Homo sapiens: one gene and its partners. The protein of the gene in region 5 purifies or fractionates together with the protein of the main gene of each other region. This does not show direct contact. Each region holds a gene or a part of one and is shown on either strand. Other genes may lie near its edges. The genes, in order: LAPTM4A, DIPK1A, GLB1L2, PRXL2A and UGT1A5.

Region 1 (3,517 bases), about 210 Mb from region 5:
ATCACATGAGCCTAGGAAGGGGAGGCTTCAGTGAGCTGAGATTGCACCACTGCACTCCACCCTGGGCAATAGAGTGAGACTCCATATCACACACACGCACACATACACATACACACACACACACAAAAGTAAGACTAGTAGATAAGTGACTTTCAGTATCTTGGTAAGTCTCTTAAGCATTTGAGTCTAGCTCTAGAGGAAATAGTGAGTTCTCTGTCACCTGATGAGAGATGCTGTGGAGGGGTTTCGGGCATCTGATGAATAAATATAACAGATGAACAGTAACTTCTTCAAATCCAGAAATTCTGAGATTGGTATATGAATAAATAGGTAGCTTCGAACATGAACCATTTGTAATGATTCTTTAGTTTTAATTTTTTTCTGGTGTATTGGTTAAGCATCTTATCTCTCAAATGGTTAATATTACTTATACTTTATAAAATATTTATTTTTAAATTATTCTCATAGTGGTAATTGCGTATTGTTTTATCTCACAGGTAGTCTCCCACTATTTTATATCTTTGTTACTTCAAGTAAGACAATCTTAAATATGAGAGGACATCTAGAGATTGTGCTAAGATTGCGTCGTGATGGTAATTAATGTAACTGATAGAATGTTATCTTTTCCAGGTAGTAAACCTATTGATGGCAATTTTGCTGACTGTGGAAGTGACTCATCCAAACTCCATGCCAGCTGTCAACATTCAGTATGAAGTCATCGGTAATTACTATTCGTCTGAGAGAATGGCTGGTATGTGTTTAATAGAAAAACAAAAAAATCTCCCCTGCTAATTTTTATATACAGTCCTGTGTTGTTTAATGATGGGGACACATTCTGAGAAATGTCACTGGGTGATATTGTTGTGTGAACATCATAGGGTGTACTTACACAAACCTAGATAGCGTAGCCTACTATACACCTAGGCGATGTGGTAGAGACTCCTAGGCTAAAACCTGTACAGCAGGTTACTGTACCGAATACTGTAGGCAGTTATCATACAGTGGCAAATAGGTGTGTATCTAAAGATGGAAAAATATAGTAATACTGTAAATACACTATTACAGTGTTATGGAACCCTCATGATATATGCAGTCCATTGTTGACCAAAATGTTGTTGGCCCATGTCTGTCTGTCTCCACACACACTGGTTATTTAGGGGATTGATTAGATTATGCTTAAGTTACATTTCAGAAAGTTAAAATGGTTACATAATAAGGGTAACAAGTTAAATTATATTTAAGTCATTCTTGCTGAGGCAGGAAAGTATTTTGATGGGTTTTTCAGAGAGATTCAGTGAGGATTACAATAGAGCATTTCTAGCCAGAAAATGTAATGGACTATTAAGTTTTTGAGAAATGTGTAAAATGTACCTTGAAATCAAAATAAGCATGCAGGCTTCATAAGACTTTTTTTTTAATGTAGCTACTAGTAGAAAGGAGAAGTTGCTATGGTTACAATATATGTGTCCCTCCAAAATTCACATGCTGGAGCTTAACCTCCAAGGTGATGATATTAAGAGGTAGGACCCTTGGGTGGTGATTAGGCCATGAGGGCTCTACCCTTATGAATGGGATAAATGCCTTTCTTTTTTTTTGAGACAGAGTTTTGCGCTTGTTGCCCAGGCTGGAGTGCAGTGGTGCGATCTCGGCTCAGGGCAACCTCTGCCTCCTGGGTTCAAGCGATTCTCCTGCCTCAGCCTCCTGAGTAGCTGGGATTACAGGCACACACCACCACACCCGGCTAATTTTTTGTATTTTTAGAGTTACTCCATGTTGGTCAGGTTGGTCTCGAACTCCCGACCTTAGGTGATCCACCCGCCTCAGCCTCCCAAAGTGCTGGGATTACAGGCGTGCCACAGCGCCCAGCCAGCGCCCTTCATTTTTAAAATCACATTTATATTATTTATTTGTTTAAAAAAAGTTTTTTAGAGAAAAGGTCTTACTTTGTTGTCCCAACTGGAGTGCAGTGGTACAGTAATAGCTCACTGTAACCCAGAATTCCTGAGCTCAAGTGATCCTCCCACCTCAGCTGCCTGAGTAGCTAAATTTTTGTGGAGATCGGGTCTCCCTGTCTTTACCAGGCTGGTCTTGAGCTCCCGGCTTCAAGGGACCCTCCCACTTCAGCCTCCCAAAGTGCTGAGATTACAGGCATGAGCCACTGTGCCCAGCCCATAGCAGACTCTTGAAAGCCGATTATTTGAATTACAAATTTTGCTTTCAAGTTTGATAATACCTGTTTAATTTCATATTTTGTTTTTACCTGAATTCTTCTAAGTGGAAGTTTGCATGTTGTAGCAGGGAAGTCCTTTAAATTCTTAACATTTATCAATCCTGTATCCTCTAAGAAAAAAGTAAAGAGGACTATTCCTAGTTTAGTGCCAAATATTGATGAGGTTTTACTGCCCAGTGATAAATTATATATACATGCTGTGCATGGTGGCTCATGCCTGTAATCCCATCACTTTGGGAGGCCGAGGCAGGTGAATCACTTGAGGTCAGGAGTTTGAGACTAGCCTGGCTAACATGGTGAAATCCTGTCTCTATTAAAAATACAAAAATTAGCTGGGCTTGGTGGCGCAGGCCTGCAATCCTAGCTACTCTGGAGGCTGAGGCAAAAGAATCTCATGAACCTGGGAGGCAGAGGTTGCAGTGAGCTGAGATTGTGCCACTGCACTCCAGCCTGGGTGACAGTGAGATTGTCTCAAAGAAAAAAAAAAAGTTGTATATACATTTACCCAATAGGGAATATTCAGCAGTTGTTCTAGTCATTCATCATTATTAGTGCCCTCAGTATTTTTTTTCTTTTTTCATTTTTAAAACATCTTTTGTGCATACAGGGTCTTGCTATATTGCCCAGGTTGGTCTTGAACTCCTGGCCTCAAGTAATTTTCCCACCTTAGTCTCTCAGAGTACTGAGATTACAGGTGTGGGTTGCCGTGCCCATCCCCCCCAGTTTCTTAATCTCTGCCCAGACGGATCACCTGATGTTGGGAGTTTAGACCAGCCTGGCCAACATGGTGAAACCTCGTCTCTACTAGAAATACAGAAATTAGCTGGATGTGGTGGTGCTTGCCTATAATTCCAGCTACTTGGGAGGCTGAGGCAAGAGAATCACATGAACCTGGGAGGTTGAGGTTGCAGTGAGCCGAGATCGCGCCACTGCACTCTAGCCTGGGCGACAGAGCAAGACTCTGTCTCAGGAAAAGAAAGAAAAAACTGTCCAGAGTCACAGAATCAACTACAGATTTGTGCTAAGAAATTCAGTAAGTCAGGCACGGTTTAGAATTGCTTGAGATTACTTGGCTGTTTTGTGAAAAAATTAGTGAACATGGATTAATGGAGAGTTGGAACAACCTGAGGAAGAGTTGAGAAACGAAGAAGAAAGTAGTGTGTGTTAACATAGATACCAGGGTGCAGGAAGCAATGAATTTTGGTGTTTGGGAGGTTGGGTGGGGAAGTGAGGTTAATGGCGAAATTTGAATTTCAGGTTATATTTATCTAGAGCAAAGGGTAATGT
Region 2 (3,517 bases), on a different chromosome or scaffold from region 5:
AGAAAGGTTGCAGAGACCAGCTTTGTATACTTGCAGTTATGCTGTTTGTCTTTAACTGGATGGGGTCAAAGACCAGTTATGTCCTGAGGTGTTCAGGCCTTAGGAGCTGTGAGTTCCCTTTTTTCTGCAGTGTACAGGAGAAAACTTTTAAGCAGTCAGCTTACTTGTAAAGGAACTTCATTCTCAGTATTTTTATTAATCCAGATATCACTGTGGCATTTGGTAACGCTTTTGGAAAACTGTGGCATTACACAATTAATGATATATTTTCAGCCATAATAGACATTCATGAGCTAATGCAGGCACCTATTCACTGTTTATAGCTTTGCTTATATAGCAGAAGAGATTCTACTGCCTGTGAAGAAAAGAACTTGTGTGGTATATGCATACAACAGAATATTATTCAGCAATAAAGTGAAATGAAGTTCTGATACACACTGTAACATGGATGAACCTTAAAAACATTAAATATATGAAACTAGTCACAAAAGATCACGTATTATTTCATTCATATGAGATGTCCAGAATGGGCAAATCTATAAAGACAAAAAGATAGATTAGTGGTTGCCTGGGGGGAAATGGGGAGTAACTACTGATGGATATGAAGTGTTCTTGAGGGGGACAGAAATGTTCTAAAATTGATAGTGGTGATGGTTGCCCAAGTATGTGAATATACTAAAACCTACTGAACGTTATGCTTTAAATGAATAAATTGTAGGATATGTGAATTATTAGTATATCTCCATAAAACAGTTGAAAAATAAATGAACCGAGTTTATCTCATGAAAGTCGTCCTTCTTCTCTCTGCCTTTTGCTGCAGATTCCACCAAGGTCAGCTTTTTGGTGCAGGGAGCACTTCTTCCAGGGGAGCTGGGCAGGCACACTGTTAGTCTGTGCAGCCTCTCTGTGGGCTAGAAGGACTTGTGACCTGCCTGGAAGGGCCAACAGACGTTTACCTGAGCAACAAGCTTCTCATGGCAAGGCATCTTGCCCAGAGCAAGCAAGCTAATTTACAGTTCCATGTTTTCCAGATATTTTGTTGAAACATTACTTGGGAAATAACACTTCCTGGACTGGCTAAATGATGCAGCACATTGAACAGAGTAGAATCCTGCCTCTGAGATCAGAAACTGTGGATGTATTAACTGCTTAAACCATTTTTAGGCAGTATTTTCTTCCACGTGCCATTATGGTGCATACTACTTGTGGCCTGCTTGGGTGTGATAACCCAGAATGACACCTGCATTTGTCTTTTTTTAGCAGTGTGTTTTCTACAAACTAAGATCTACTTTGTTTAGGGTTTACTCATAGTCTGAGTGAAGCTGATAACACAGCAACCCTATAATTTGTTGGTTTTGGTTTAAAATACCTTCTTCCTTCTCACCATCGTTAAGTCCTGAAAGAATGAAAGTCAAGACAATTCAGCATAATTCTCTGTACTTAGATTATACACATTTTCCATTCCAATCATTCTGCCTATGTGTTCTGTTGCATATGAAAAGTTGGTGCAGTTCTAATGGAATTTGAAGTCCCATGTACTTGGGTCCTTTGAAGGTTTTCAAGCCGTTTTGCTTGTAAGGGGCTTAAAGTTTTAGAAGTATCCTCTTGAAAATGACTGCCCTAGCAATTTCAGTATGTGTTCAGTAGGGTTGTTATGAGTGAATGGGTAGATGGCATGTTCTAGCTAGGGTGTTTGCACTTGTTTAACATTTCTGATACCTGGCACTTTGGCTCGTATTAGTACAATTTTTCAAACATGACTGCTGTGGATGGTTTGGTTCCTTATGAGTTAATGTGGATATTTTGTGAGATTTAGTGCCAGACAGGGTTACTGATACAGATTAATTGGTAATAGTAGTAATGTTGCCAAATACTGTAGTAAAAATGGGCTTTTTGCCCATTTTCAGTCTCCAGGATTATTTTAAATCTAAGGATAATTAGAGCCTATGGTTGTTCTCTATCCTCCAAAGACAATAGAGGGAGAAGATCTGTAGTTTGTATAGTTCTCATTAACTTTATTAGACCTGCTGTTCAGAGATTAGCTTTTGCCTTTGCCTGAAATTTAATCTCCAGAACTATGATTAGCTTTCTGAGACTGGTATGTGTACAGAGAGCCACTTGATATTACCATTAGTTGCTTTTGAACCTTTGTTAGAAGCTCAAAGAAATGGTGAATTCTCAGGCAGATTGCATCCTTACCACATTTCTTTCAAACTGGACCATACAGTAAAAGTGTTTCTTCACTGTAGTCTTCTCAGTGCCTCAGATTTTTTTTTTAAGTTAAAGATTTAAAAGTTTTTAGAGCCATTTTAAGTTCACAGCAAAATTGAGAGGAATGCAGAGAGATTTCCCATATACCCCTTGTCCTGACACATGAATAGCCTCCCTCCTTTTCTTTTCTTTTTTTTCCCCTTTTCTTCTTTTCTTTTCTCTTCTTGATACAGGATCTCCCTCTGTCACCCAGGCTGGAGTTCAGTGACACAATCATGGCTCACTGCAGCCTCTACCTCCCATACTCAAGTGATCCTACTGCTTCAGCCTCCTGAGTAGCTACAGGCACATCCCACCAAGTCCAGCTAATTTAAATATTTTTTTAAGAGACAGTGGTCCCACTGCATTGCCCAGGCTGGTCTTGAATTCTTGGGCTCAAGTGATCCTCCTGCCTTGGCCTCCCAAAGTGCTGGAATTATAGGAATTAACCACTGTGCCTGGCCCCTCCCCTATTTTCATTTTTTTTTCTTTTTTCTTTCTTTTCTTTTCTTTTTTTTTTTTTTTGAGACAGAGTCTCACTCTGTCACCCAGGCTGTAGTGCAGTGGTGCGATCTCAGCTCACTGCAAGCTTTGCCTCCCAGGTTCATGCCATTCTCCTGCCTCAGCCTCCCAAGTAGCTGGGACTACAGGTGCCCGCCACCACTCCTGGCTAATTTTTTGTGTTTTTAGCAGAGACGGGGCTTCACTGTGTTAGCCAGGATGGTCTCGATCTCCTGACCTCGTGATCTGCCTGCCTTGGCCTCCCAAAGTGCTGGGATTACAGGCGTGAGCCACCGTGCCCAGCCCCCTCCCCTATATTTAACATCCCCCACATAATGGTACATGTTTTACAGTTAATGAACTTACACTGACGTATTATCACCCAAAGTCCATAGTTTTACATTAGAGTTCATTCTTTGTGTTGTACATTCAGTGTGTTTGGATAAATGCATAATGACATGTATCCATCATTATTGTATAGAGTGTAGTTTCACTGCCTTAAAAATCTGTGCTCTGCTTATTTATCCTTCTGTCCCCACTGAGCCCCCAAAAGCCACTGGTCTTTATTGTCTCCATAGTTTTGCCTTTTTCTAAAATGTCATCTAGTTGGAATCACGTAGTATTTTAGGTAGCCTTTTCAAATAGGCTTCTTTCACTTAGTAATATGCATTTACGTCTCCTCTATGGCTTTTCATGGCTTAATAGCTCATTTCTTTTTAACGCTGAATAATATTTCGTTGTCTGGGTGTACCACAGTTTATCCATT
Region 3 (3,517 bases), on a different chromosome or scaffold from region 5:
TCCTGCCCCGGACTCAGCCACGCCCTTGTTTCATGCCTCCAGCTTTCCTGACCTTCCTGACTTGAAATGTGGGTCTCCCCAGCTTCTCGCACGGCTTTCGGGAGACAGGGTGGGAAGGAGACCCACCCGGCAGCACCGAGTCACTGGGACCCGGCTGAGGGGCTCCCTGGGGCCGACCCCGAGAGATGCCGAGAGGCGCTTTCTCGCGGACCGGAGCCTTCGACGGCCTTCCCGTGGGGGACTCTGCTCTAGCTGGGTCACCTCGTGGGGGGTGCGCGGTCTTCAGAAAATAATGAAGACCTGGAATCGGGTGGATGGGTGGACGCCGCCAACGCAGACCCTCTTTCCAGGTCTCTGCTCCTGCGGTCGGGCGGCTGCGACCGTGCCGGGGCTCGGAGGTACCGTGTGAAGTCGCTGTCGCGCGTGGCCGCGGGGCTGGCCACGGTGAAGCCCGTGCGGCGCCCGCCCCGCCCCGCCCCGGCCCCAGCAGCAGCCTCTCCCGTGGCGTGACGGCTGCCGTCTCTCCTTTCAGCCCGCCGGCCTCCATGCCGAGTGCTGTGCTTGCTGCCGGCTGCAGCCTCGGCCTGCCCTTCCCCTGCCGCGGGGCCCCGTGCTGAAGAAAGACCCCTTCCCAGGTCTGGCTGAGGCGGAGGGGAGCTTTTCCCAGCCACCTGGACGCAGGCGCCCTCGAGAGAGAAATGCCGAGGACCTGCGAAGGGGCGAGGAAGCCGATCTCTCTGCGGCCCGGAGCCTCCAGGCTCCAGAATGTCTTTGTCTTTCCAGGCTGGACTGGAGCACCCTGGTCCCTCTGCGGCTCCGCCATCGACAGCTGGGGCTGCAGGCCAAGGGCTGGAACTTCATGCTGGAGGATTCCACCTTCTGGATCTTCGGGGGCTCCATCCACTATTTCCGTGTGCCCAGGGAGTACTGGAGGGACCGCCTGCTGAAGATGAAGGCCTGTGGCTTGAACACCCTCACCACGTAGGTGCTGCCCCTGTCCCCCCGGAGCCTGGTTCCTAAGCAGGGCGCCTGGTGTCTGCATGCGAAAAAATATAAGAGGAACCGGCCCAGGTCCTCTGCCCAGGGCGAGAGAGCCAGGGTCTCCCTCCTCCTCCCCACCACAGAGCTCCTGACTCATGGGCGCCAAGGGACATGAAATGGATGTGAGGTCTAGAGGAACCGCAGTAGCAATGTCGCACAAAAGAGTATAGGGAAGGCGGTGAGTGCAGATTGAGGAGGTGATTCAGTGCTAGCGAATCTTTTTGTGTTACAAGCAGTCTTCCCACTTCCAGTTTATACAGCCAGTGAACGGAGTCTTCTTCAGGAGAGCTGCCTGAGAGGCTCTCTGGCCCCAGTTTTCAGCACTCCTCTTGGGCAGTGGTCTTAGAATGCTGTGGTTGCCATCCCAGCCTCTGCTGTGATGATTGGCACATGGTAGGCACGCACTAAAATGTCGAACTTGCAAATCATTTATAAAGTGTGCTCAGTTGTGAATAACCTGGATCTTTTCATGGGTTTTCCCCCCAAATTGCCAACTGATACTTGACGCTAAGTCTATGAAATAAAGGGGGTGATCAGGCTGGATTATTCCATGTTTAGGCAAAAATATGTGATTACAAATCAAGGAGATGGCTTTTCATGGGTGGTTTATGAACTGATTTTGAAGACAGTTCCTTAAAGAGTTACAGAAACCTGCCGAGCCTTGACAACTTCCCCGAAAGGACTCCTGAAGGCTGTGGGAGTGCTGCAGGCTCAGCACTCTGACTCGCAGAAGCAGCACCGACGACACTTGCTGAAAGGCAGAGCTCGTGTGTCTGGGTTGGAAGCCAGGCAGGCTCTCCTCCTTCATCTGAGAATATTCTTTGTAGTGGGCAGAGGCTCTGCGAAAGCCAGCGATGGGGTGGGGCCGGGAGAAGAGCAGCTGCCATCACTGTGTCATCCATGAGTCGTCCCTTCCGCCTCTCGAGTTGAGCCTGTCCATGAGCCTGCTCCATCCCTTGTCCTGTCTTTCGAGTTGGAAGCTTCATTCTGTTGCCCGTTTTGGAATTCCGGGGCTTCAGTAAATATAGGATGATCACCGAGCTTTCCCCTTACTCCTTGTAGCTGTTTTTTTGATAAAGTTACATTTTCTTCTCCAATGGGGCGTGGGCATGGTAAGCTAACTGGGGTCAGAGCGCCTGACCTTTTACTCAGCCGGTCTTATGCTTCATCCAAATCTTGTTGATGCAGAGGGAAGAGGGCTTGCCCTCGATTCTGGTCCCTAGATCAGTTCACTTAGTTCTTGGTTCCAGTCCTAAAATCATGAAGAAACATATCTTTAGCCATCATATTGGATTTTTGGGCTAAAGAAGGTAATGTGAGAGGTGAAATGGAATGAATGACATGCTCTAGCCTATAATTATCATTTCTGTTGCAGCTATGTTCCGTGGAACCTGCATGAGCCAGAAAGAGGCAAATTTGACTTCTCTGGGAACCTGGACCTGGAGTATGTGGTGTTGCTGCTTCTGTGAACTGGCCAGGGGCAGGGCACAGAGGTGGCTACTGGGGTGGATTAGCAACCAAAGAGAACCAGGGAGGGACGTGGGTCTGGAGTCCTGTTCTAGGACTGTGAGAGGCCCTGCACCCAGGACCCAGACGCTCCCCAGTCGTGACCTGTCACCCAGAGGGACTGGGCCTGCAGCCTCCGGGCCCCACCTCTCCACTGCAGCCCAGAGGGGCAGAAGACCCTGGGAGCCGCCCGACTCTGCATGGGGTCCGGCCGCTGGGCTGGGGCAGGGCGGCCCCTCTAGGCTAGCAAGGCTATGGGGTCAGGTTCACTGTTGAGACCACTGAGCCCTGGGTGTCACCCTTCCTCCTCAGGCCCCCGATGGGGCTGTGCAGAGGCTCTGAGGCTGGGAGCAGCTCAGGCCACCGACCTGGTGTGGGAGTCCCCGCGCTTTGGGGGTGGGGCCGAGCCGTCCCTTCGCCCCACCAGGCAGCTCCTCCACCCTGTGATGCGCGTGGCCCCCACCCGGCCTCATCCTGGGCCGTCGTGGGAGGGGCTGACGATGTGGACCTCCCTAGGGCCTTCGTCCTGATGGCCGCAGAGATCGGGCTGTGGGTGATTCTGCGTCCAGGCCCCTACATCTGCAGTGAGATGGACCTCGGGGGCTTGCCCAGGTAAGCGGGGTTGTGAAGGGTCCTGTGTGCTGTGGCAAAAAGCTCACAGACATAGGTCTGGTTTGTTTCTGTGTTCCAGTTCCCATTCTGTACTGAATTGTGTTCCAGTTCCCATTCTGTACTGAATTTCCTTTTCAGGAAAAGCAGCACCCAGAGGGGATCGCTTTCAGTGATGCTGCAGTGAGTGCCCTCACGTAGCCATGCATGGGCTGCTTGTGTGACAGGCAGCAGCAGGGCTGGCCCTCCTGGCATCTCATGCTTCAGGACTCTGCTGTGGAGCTGTGAGTCCTGGCAGGTCATTCACCTGCGTGTCTGCAGTATGGGAAAAATCCGACCTTCCCTGTCTGTTTCTTTTTTT
Region 4 (3,517 bases), on a different chromosome or scaffold from region 5:
GCACCCACCACCACACCCAGCTAATTTTTTTGTATTTTCAGTAGAGACAGGGTTTCTACTCATGATCTGCCCGCCTCAGCCTCCCAAAGTGCTGGGATTACAAGCTCACGCCTGGCCTGAGCTTTATTTCTTATGTCTTCCTTTTACAGCTTGGTAACTGATTCGCTTGACTATATTAGAATTTAGCATAAAATGGTGTCTGATTTAACATAAACCTATTTGCTAATTTTCTGGTAAATCTGTCAAAGTGTCTTAGTAATAATGGTTTCCAATGAGTGCCTGTCTTGTTCTACGTGCTCAAGTACATGGTCTCATGTCTTCCTCACAACCAGTCTAGGATGTTAGGCATTTTTATTCCCATCCACATATACAGCAGTTGGCCTAGAGATTTAAAATAACTCAGCCAAAGACACAGCTAAGTGGTACAATGGAAATGAAACTTAGGAACTCAAATCTGTCAAACTCCAGAGACCCTTCCCGGCCCGGCCCTGCCCTGCCCCGCCCCGCCCCTAGCCTCTCCTGCCCTGCCCTGCCCCTAGCCTCTCCTGCCCTGCCCTGCCCTGCCCTGCCCCTAGCCTCTCCTGCCCTGCCCTGCCCCTAGCCTCTCCTGCCCTTCCCTGCCCCTAGCCTCTCCTGCCCTGCCCTGCCCCTAGCCTCTCCTTGGAGGTGTTTCCCAGCGACCACTTCCTGATGTCCTTATGCTTGGGCAGGCCACTTCCCCAGTGGATTGCCCATCCTCTTCCCACTCTGACAACGTGGGGTTCCTTCCCCTACCCGCCTCTGCCTTCTCATGGCCTCTAGGGCAGGGCTTGGCATGCCTGCCAGCCTTTTCTTGCCTGGCGATGACTCATCTGGTGCTCATGGGCCCTACTGGCATGTTTCTGATGTTGCTAGGTGTGTTTGACTTTTGTTCGTATTCCCTGGAGCCCCTGGCCTTCATTCTCCTAGGCGGAAGGTTAACTGGCTAGCTGAACTTCAGGACTTACTTCAGTTCTTGTTGGGTGTAGAGTTTTTGTAGTCTAAAATTGGGGTGGTGGGGATTTCCTTTTTTTTTTTTTTTTTTTTTTTTTCTGGAGACAGAGGTTCACTCTTGTTGCCCAGGCTGGAGTGCAATGGCACGATCTCAGCTCACTGCAACCTCCACCCCCCCGGGTTCAAGCGATTCTCCTGCCTCAGCCTCCCGAGTAGCTGGGATTACAGGTACCCGCTGCCATGCCCAGCTAATTTTTGTATTTTTAGTAGAGGCAGGGTGTCACCATGTTGGCCAGACTGGTCTCAAACTCCTGACCTCAAGTGATCTATCCACATTGGTCTCCCAAAGTGCTGGGATTACAGGCGTGAGCCGCCGCACCCTGCCTGAATTTTCTTTTTAATAATAATCTTGAAAGCATTCTTAAAGAAGAAGCAGCTGGGCAACATAGCAAAACCCCATCTCTATAAAGAATAAAAAAGTTTAGCCGGCGTGGTGACATGCACCTGTAGTCCTGGCTACTTGGGAGGCTGAAGCAGGAGGATTTCTTGAGCACAGGAGTTCAAGGCTGCAGTAAGCTATGATCGCACCACTGAACTACAGCCTGGGAAACAGAGCAAGACCCTGTCTGTAAATAAATAAATAAAAAGTGTGTTTGCACTACAGAAAATTTAAAAACAGCAGAACATAGAAGGTGGGGAAAACCATCCTATGAGCTCAGCCACCGTGGAAAATCCACTGGAACAAAGCTGAATGGCCTTTCCTTTTGTTTTGCTTTGCTCTAGAAAATTGTACTAGATGTTCTTTTTTCATTTAACAGTATATTGTGAACATTTTCCTATGTCACTATATATTGTTAGTTTTTTGTTCGTGTTTTTGTTTGTTTGTTTGTTTAGATGGAGTCTTGCTCTGTCGCCCAGGCTGGAGTGCAGTGGCGCGATCTCGGCTCACTGCAACCTCCGCCTCCCAGCCTCCCAGGTTCAAGGGATTATCCTGTTTCAGCCTCCTGAATAGCTGGGACTAAAGGCTTGAGCTACCGTACCTGGCTAATTTTTGTATTTTTAGTAGAGACCGAGTTTCACCGTGTTGGCCAGGCTGGTCTTGAACTCCTGACCTCAAGTGATCCGCCCACCTCAGCCTCCTAAAGTGCTGGGAGTACAGGTGTGAGCCACAGCACGCAGCCTATTAGTATTTTTAATGTCTGTATTATGGTTTACTGAGCAAGTAAATATAATTTTCTGATCTGCTTGCCCATAATCTCTGCAGTGTGGTGGGCCTTTTTTTTTTTTTTAAGTCTTTATAAATAATGACACAGTGTATTTACAGATTTTCTTTTTAAGATGAGTTTCCAGATGTAATGAATCAAAGAACTCTAACAAGGATTCCTTGATGCTGATCTCAAACATGTTATTTTGTCTTTTTTTTACTACCTCCAACTTTAGATAACTTTGGGGTATCTTGTGTCTTAGTGCATTTTTTTTCACTGTATGAGAAGAAAGTGGCTTCCAGTTTCTTAGAAGACTAAAGAAAAATGAGGGTCTCTCTTTTAGATGGTCATTCAGTGCCTTCCAAAGTCTAACCTCTGAGCTCCACTTCCACACCTTTGGGCCTTTCTGTGTTAGCTTCATTTTTTTCTCTTCACCTGGTATGTTCTTTTACCTGCATCTCTACTTGTAGACATCCTGGTTACCCTCCGTGCCTCTGTGAGGCCTTCCCTGATTGCCCTTGTCATGCTTTATCACTTCTGACTTCCTGCTTCTAGAGCTGCTGGTACAGGCCAGATGGATGTGGCCTTCTCCGGTCTATCTTCCCTCAAAGACTGAACTCCTTGAGGGCAGGAGCCAGGCCATATTTGGATCTGTGTCCTTTGCTATTCAAGCAAAAGGCTTGACAGACAGCTGGTCCTCGATGCCTGTCTCATGAACGAACGATTTAGGATGAGGACTGACATTATCTCTTGTTTCCTTTTAGGGCATTCTTCTTGAGCACCGAGAAAAAGAATTTGGAGACAAAGTAAACCTACTTTCTGTTCTGGAAGCTGCTAAGATGATCAAACCACAGACTTTGGCCTCAGAGAAAAAATGATTGTGTGAAACTGCCCAGCTCAGGGATAACCAGGGACATTCACCTGTGTTCATGGGATGTATTGTTTCCACTCGTGTCCCTAAGGAGTGAGAAACCCATTTATACTCTACTCTCAGTATGGATTATTAATGTATTTTAATATTCTGTTTAGGCCCACTAAGGCAAAATAGCCCCAAAACAAGACTGACAAAAATCTGAAAAACTAATGAGGATTATTAAGCTAAAACCTGGGAAATAGGAGGCTTAAAATTGACTGCCAGGCTGGGTGCAGTGGCTCACACCTGTAATCCCAGCACTTTGGGAGGCCAAGGTGAGCAAGTCACTTGAGGTCGGGAGTTCGAGACCAGCCTGAGCAACATGGCGAAACCCCGTCTCTACTAAAAATACAAAAATCACCCGGGTGTGGTGGCAGGCACCTGTAGTCCCAGCTACCCGGGAGGCTGAGGCAGGAGAATCACTTGA
Region 5 (4,109 bases):
GCGCCCTCTGGTGGACAGCTCCATTCGCTGCCTGTCCCATGGGTTCTGTCCAAAGGTGGAATCTATTATCAATGTGGATTTCTAATGGGGGTAACTTCCTCCCTAAGGGAAGCCTCAGCTTCACCAGCAATGGCAGACACGGCCAGGCATGTAGACACAGAGGAAGTGAGATAGAAAGTGTGCACAGCCCAGAGAGCCTGCCCACATCATCCTGGGGCGACCAGGACAAGGAGGCGTCAGCAATCTTGCCAAGCACAAGTATGAGTGACTTTCTGGAGCAGGACGAGTCTCATGGGCGTGAGACCATTGTGAGTGCTCAGGGTCTCTCCATTAGAAAGGCACACGTTTAATTCTCCATTTTGAAATTTGAACTAGAGCCCCCACAAATTATTCTGTTCTGGAGGAACCATTCTTATCAGAACTTGGTGCTGGATTGACTTGGAAAAAAGCCTGACCATAATCTTCAGGATGAAATAAAGGCCTGGATGAATGGACACTTCAGTCTCTAAGCAGACTTGCAGAAGACTGGAGCCTTCAGCATTCAGAAGAGGAATTCAGACTGTGCAAGATCTGAGGCCAGGCTCCAGCTCCCCCGGTCCCTTGGTGAGCAGGAGCTCCCTGAACCCACCATGGGTCTTTGCTAGGGTTGTCTTGCACATGTGTGCTTTAGACAGCAGCACCTCTTCTTCCATGGTGTAGATGGAGAATCCTCAACAAAGCCTTTCCAAGAATCTGATCATCACATCTTGAGCTCAGCCTCCCTGCAGCTTTTTTTATATTGACAGCCACTTCAGAGAGAGTCCTCTTTGAGCTTTACAAGAAATATCCTGGTGTGAAAAACGACCAAAACCAGATAGCCAGCCTCCCCACTCCCTGTTTAAAGAAAGCTGGCTTAGCAATGTTGTCTGCATTTTGGATGTGCTGTGTTACCCATATGTGGGAAGAAAGAGTATTAAGAGTTAGCAAATAGGGTCACATCCAGCAGAGACCATATGGTTGGGGACTAGGGCAATGGTGACTCCTCAGACCTCAGCTGCAGCCTGATAAACGTGGTTAAGAGAGAAGTAGGAGACAGTGACATGAAATGGGGGTTCACAGCCTTGTGTTGGGAATTGAATGAGAAACAAGAGCTTGAACTTGGATGTTCCCCAGAGCGAGCGCAAGGTCAGATGAGTTTTTCAAGATAGGAGTGATCGGTCTTTCCCAGGGTGGGGCCCATAATGCAAGACAATTATAGATTAACGGGTAATAAGTAACTGGAGGAGGGCACTCTGTCTTCAATTACATGTTGATTTGCTAGGTGTCTCAGTGACAAGGTAATTAAGACGAAGGAAACAATTCTAGGAGGCACAACGTGGGGTGGACAGTCAGCTGTCGGTGGCTTCTGCTGAGATGGCCACAGGACTCCAGGTTCCCCTGCCGCAGCTGGCCACAGGACTGCTGCTTCTCCTCAGTGTCCAGCCCTGGGCTGAGAGTGGGAAGGTGCTGGTGGTGCCCACTGATGGCAGCCACTGGCTCAGCATGCGGGAGGCCTTGCGGGACCTCCATGCGAGAGGCCACCAGGTGGTGGTCCTCACCCTGGAGGTGAATATGTACATCAAAGAAGAGAACTTTTTCACCCTGACAACGTATGCCATTTCATGGACCCAGGACGAATTTGATCGCCTTTTGCTGGGTCACACTCAATCGTTCTTTGAAACAGAACATCTTCTGATGAAATTTTCTAGAAGAATGGCAATTATGAACAATATGTCTTTGATCATACATAGGTCTTGTGTGGAGCTACTGCATAATGAGGCCCTGATCAGGCACCTGCATGCTACTTCCTTTGATGTGGTTCTAACAGACCCCTTTCACCTCTGCGCGGCGGTGCTGGCTAAGTACCTGTCGATTCCTGCTGTGTTTTTCTTGAGGAACATTCCATGTGATTTAGACTTTAAGGGCACACAGTGTCCAAACCCTTCCTCCTATATTCCTAGATTACTAACGACCAATTCAGACCACATGACATTCCTGCAAAGGGTCAAGAACATGCTCTACCCTCTGGCCCTGTCCTACCTTTGCCATGCTGTTTCTGCTCCTTATGCAAGCCTTGCCTCTGAGCTTTTTCAGAGAGAGGTGTCAGTGGTGGATCTTGTCAGCCATGCATCTGTGTGGCTGTTCCGAGGGGACTTTGTGATGGATTACCCCAGGCCGATCATGCCCAACATGGTCTTCATTGGGGGCATCAACTGTGCCAACGGGAAGCCACTATCTCAGGTCTGTATTGGTGCCTTTATCCAATCAATGTTCCAGGCAAAACACTTTTTAAAAAATGTATTTACTTACAAGTGCTTCCATATCTACTTATCTTTCCAAAGATTTCATTTCTGCTTCTCATTGTTGTAATAGTCTTCAGTGAGATAAACTTTTAAAGGGTCAATGGTAGTGCAGTTCAGGGTTTCAATGGCCACTGAGAGGAAGGAGAGGCAGGGACGAGGATCTGTCAAAGGATGGGCAAGAGTGGTGTGACTCACGGAGACTGTTCGTTTGTAAAAGCACCATCTTCATGGCTGTGGATGTGCTTCAGCTGGGCAGGAGCAGGGACACTACACTGAGAACTGATCCATCCAATCTTGCTGGCAAGATTTTCAGTAGAAAGGAGGAAGGAATAGAAATTTACAATTGTTGACGTGACAATTTTTAGTGGTCCCATCTTGCAAAAGATAGAGAGGTGACCACAGGAGACCTAAGCACTCAGAGGAAGTAGAGGTTTCAAAGAAGTTGACTCAGTTCAGTGGAATTGGGCCAATGTAGGTGCAATGGATGTCTGTGATCAGAGAATGAAACACAGAGTTCAGTTTCCAGAGAGGGAGTGTTGGATTGTAATAGGAGAATGTTTCTTGTGAAGACACTACTTAAAAAAAATTCTTACTAGGTTAACTTCATGGTCTAATACCGAAGTGTCCAATAGAAATATCATGTAAACCACATACATAATTTAAACTTTTCTAGTGGGCATGTTAAACACCAGCAAAAAGAAACCACTAAAATTAATGTGAATAATGCATTTTATTTAACCAGATGTATCCCAAATATTATCCTTTCAACATGTGAACTGTTTAACGTAGCTTTTTTTGTTGTTAAGTCTTCAAAATCTAGCATATATTTGACACTTACAGTATATCTCAATTTGGAATAGCCACATTTCAAGTGCTCAATATTCATATGTAGTTAGTGACAACAATATGGTGAATGTTTATAAATATTCCATGGATAAAACTAAAATTCTATCTTTTAAATTTTTCTATCTTTTGAGATGGAGTCTTGCTCTGTCACCCAGTCTGGAGTGCAGTGGTGGGATCTTGGCTCATTGCAACCTCCACCTCCCAGGTTCAACTGATTCTCCTGCCTCAGCCTCCCAAGTAGCTGGAACTACAGGCGCATGGCACCACATCCAGCTAATTTTCTTTTTTTTTGTATTTTTTATGGAGATGGAGTTTCATCATATTGGCCAGGCTGATCTCAAATGCCTGATCTCAAGTGATTCACTCACCTCAGCCTGCCAAAGTGCTGGAATTACAGGCGCGAGCCACCACACCTAGGCAATTTTTCTATCTTTTAAAAGACCCTCTACTGAATCTGCCCAATTCTGTGAAGGATGTCTTTTAAAAAATCCCCTTACATAACAAATTCTCCTCCAGTTATATTTTGGCTCTTGAATAGGTTTTGCTTTATACATAGTGATTAGATTGGTGCATGTAGGTTTGAGGTTTGAGACTTATATTTTCTTCACAGTTTGCTGTTATCATTAAATAATAATCCTTAAAATACATTTTATCTGATATCAGTAATGTGACTCCTATGTTATTTTTTGAATTCCCCATCTCTTTTAATTTGAAAATGATTTGTGTGCAAGTGGGTAGCTCACACCTGTAATTTCAGCCCTTTGGGAGACCGAGGGAGGAGGATTGCTTGAGCCCAGGAGTCTGAGAGCAGCCTGGGCAACATGCTGAGACTCCATCTCTACAAAAAATTAAAAAATTATCCAGGTGTGATGGTGCACACCTGTGGTCCCAGCTACTCGGGAGGCTGAGGCAGGAGGATCACTTGATCCCAGGAGGTGGAGG

What was found.
Region 1: the proteins of UGT1A5 (region 5) and LAPTM4A purify together in Homo sapiens (affinity purification with mass spectrometry; one large-scale study listed by BioGRID and IntAct). This does not show direct contact.
Region 2: the proteins of UGT1A5 (region 5) and DIPK1A purify together in Homo sapiens (affinity purification with mass spectrometry; one large-scale study listed by BioGRID and IntAct). This does not show direct contact.
Region 3: the proteins of UGT1A5 (region 5) and GLB1L2 purify together in Homo sapiens (affinity purification with mass spectrometry; one large-scale study listed by BioGRID and IntAct). This does not show direct contact.
Region 4: the proteins of UGT1A5 (region 5) and PRXL2A purify together in Homo sapiens (affinity purification with mass spectrometry; one large-scale study listed by BioGRID and IntAct). This does not show direct contact.

Annotation. Positions count from the first base shown.
Region 1 is NC_000002.12:20,038,125-20,041,641, reverse strand, and holds part of LAPTM4A (lysosomal-associated transmembrane protein 4A), read left to right. Parts: intron 1-630; coding exon 631-751; intron 752-3,517. UniProt on the Homo sapiens protein: May function in the transport of nucleosides and/or nucleoside derivatives between the cytosol and the lumen of an intracellular membrane-bound compartment.
Region 2 is NC_000001.11:92,954,956-92,958,472, reverse strand, and holds part of DIPK1A (divergent protein kinase domain 1A), read left to right. Parts: intron 1-3,517.
Region 3 is NC_000011.10:134,341,971-134,345,487, forward strand, and holds part of GLB1L2 (beta-galactosidase-1-like protein 2 isoform b precursor), read left to right. Parts: intron 1-783; coding exon 784-981; intron 982-2,416; coding exon 2,417-2,485; intron 2,486-3,063; coding exon 3,064-3,159; intron 3,160-3,297; coding exon of another isoform or gene 3,298-3,343; exon of another isoform or gene 3,344-3,517.
Region 4 is NC_000010.11:80,429,045-80,432,561, forward strand, and holds part of PRXL2A (peroxiredoxin-like 2A isoform 1 precursor), read left to right. Parts: intron 1-2,941; coding exon 2,942-3,055; 3' UTR 3,056-3,517. UniProt on the Homo sapiens protein: Involved in redox regulation of the cell. Acts as an antioxidant. Inhibits TNFSF11-induced NFKB1 and JUN activation and osteoclast differentiation. May affect bone resorption and help to maintain bone mass.
Region 5 is NC_000002.12:233,711,600-233,715,708, forward strand, and holds the start of UGT1A5 (UDP-glucuronosyltransferase 1A5 precursor), read left to right. Parts: upstream 1-1,307; 5' UTR 1,308-1,392; coding exon 1,393-2,259; intron 2,260-4,109.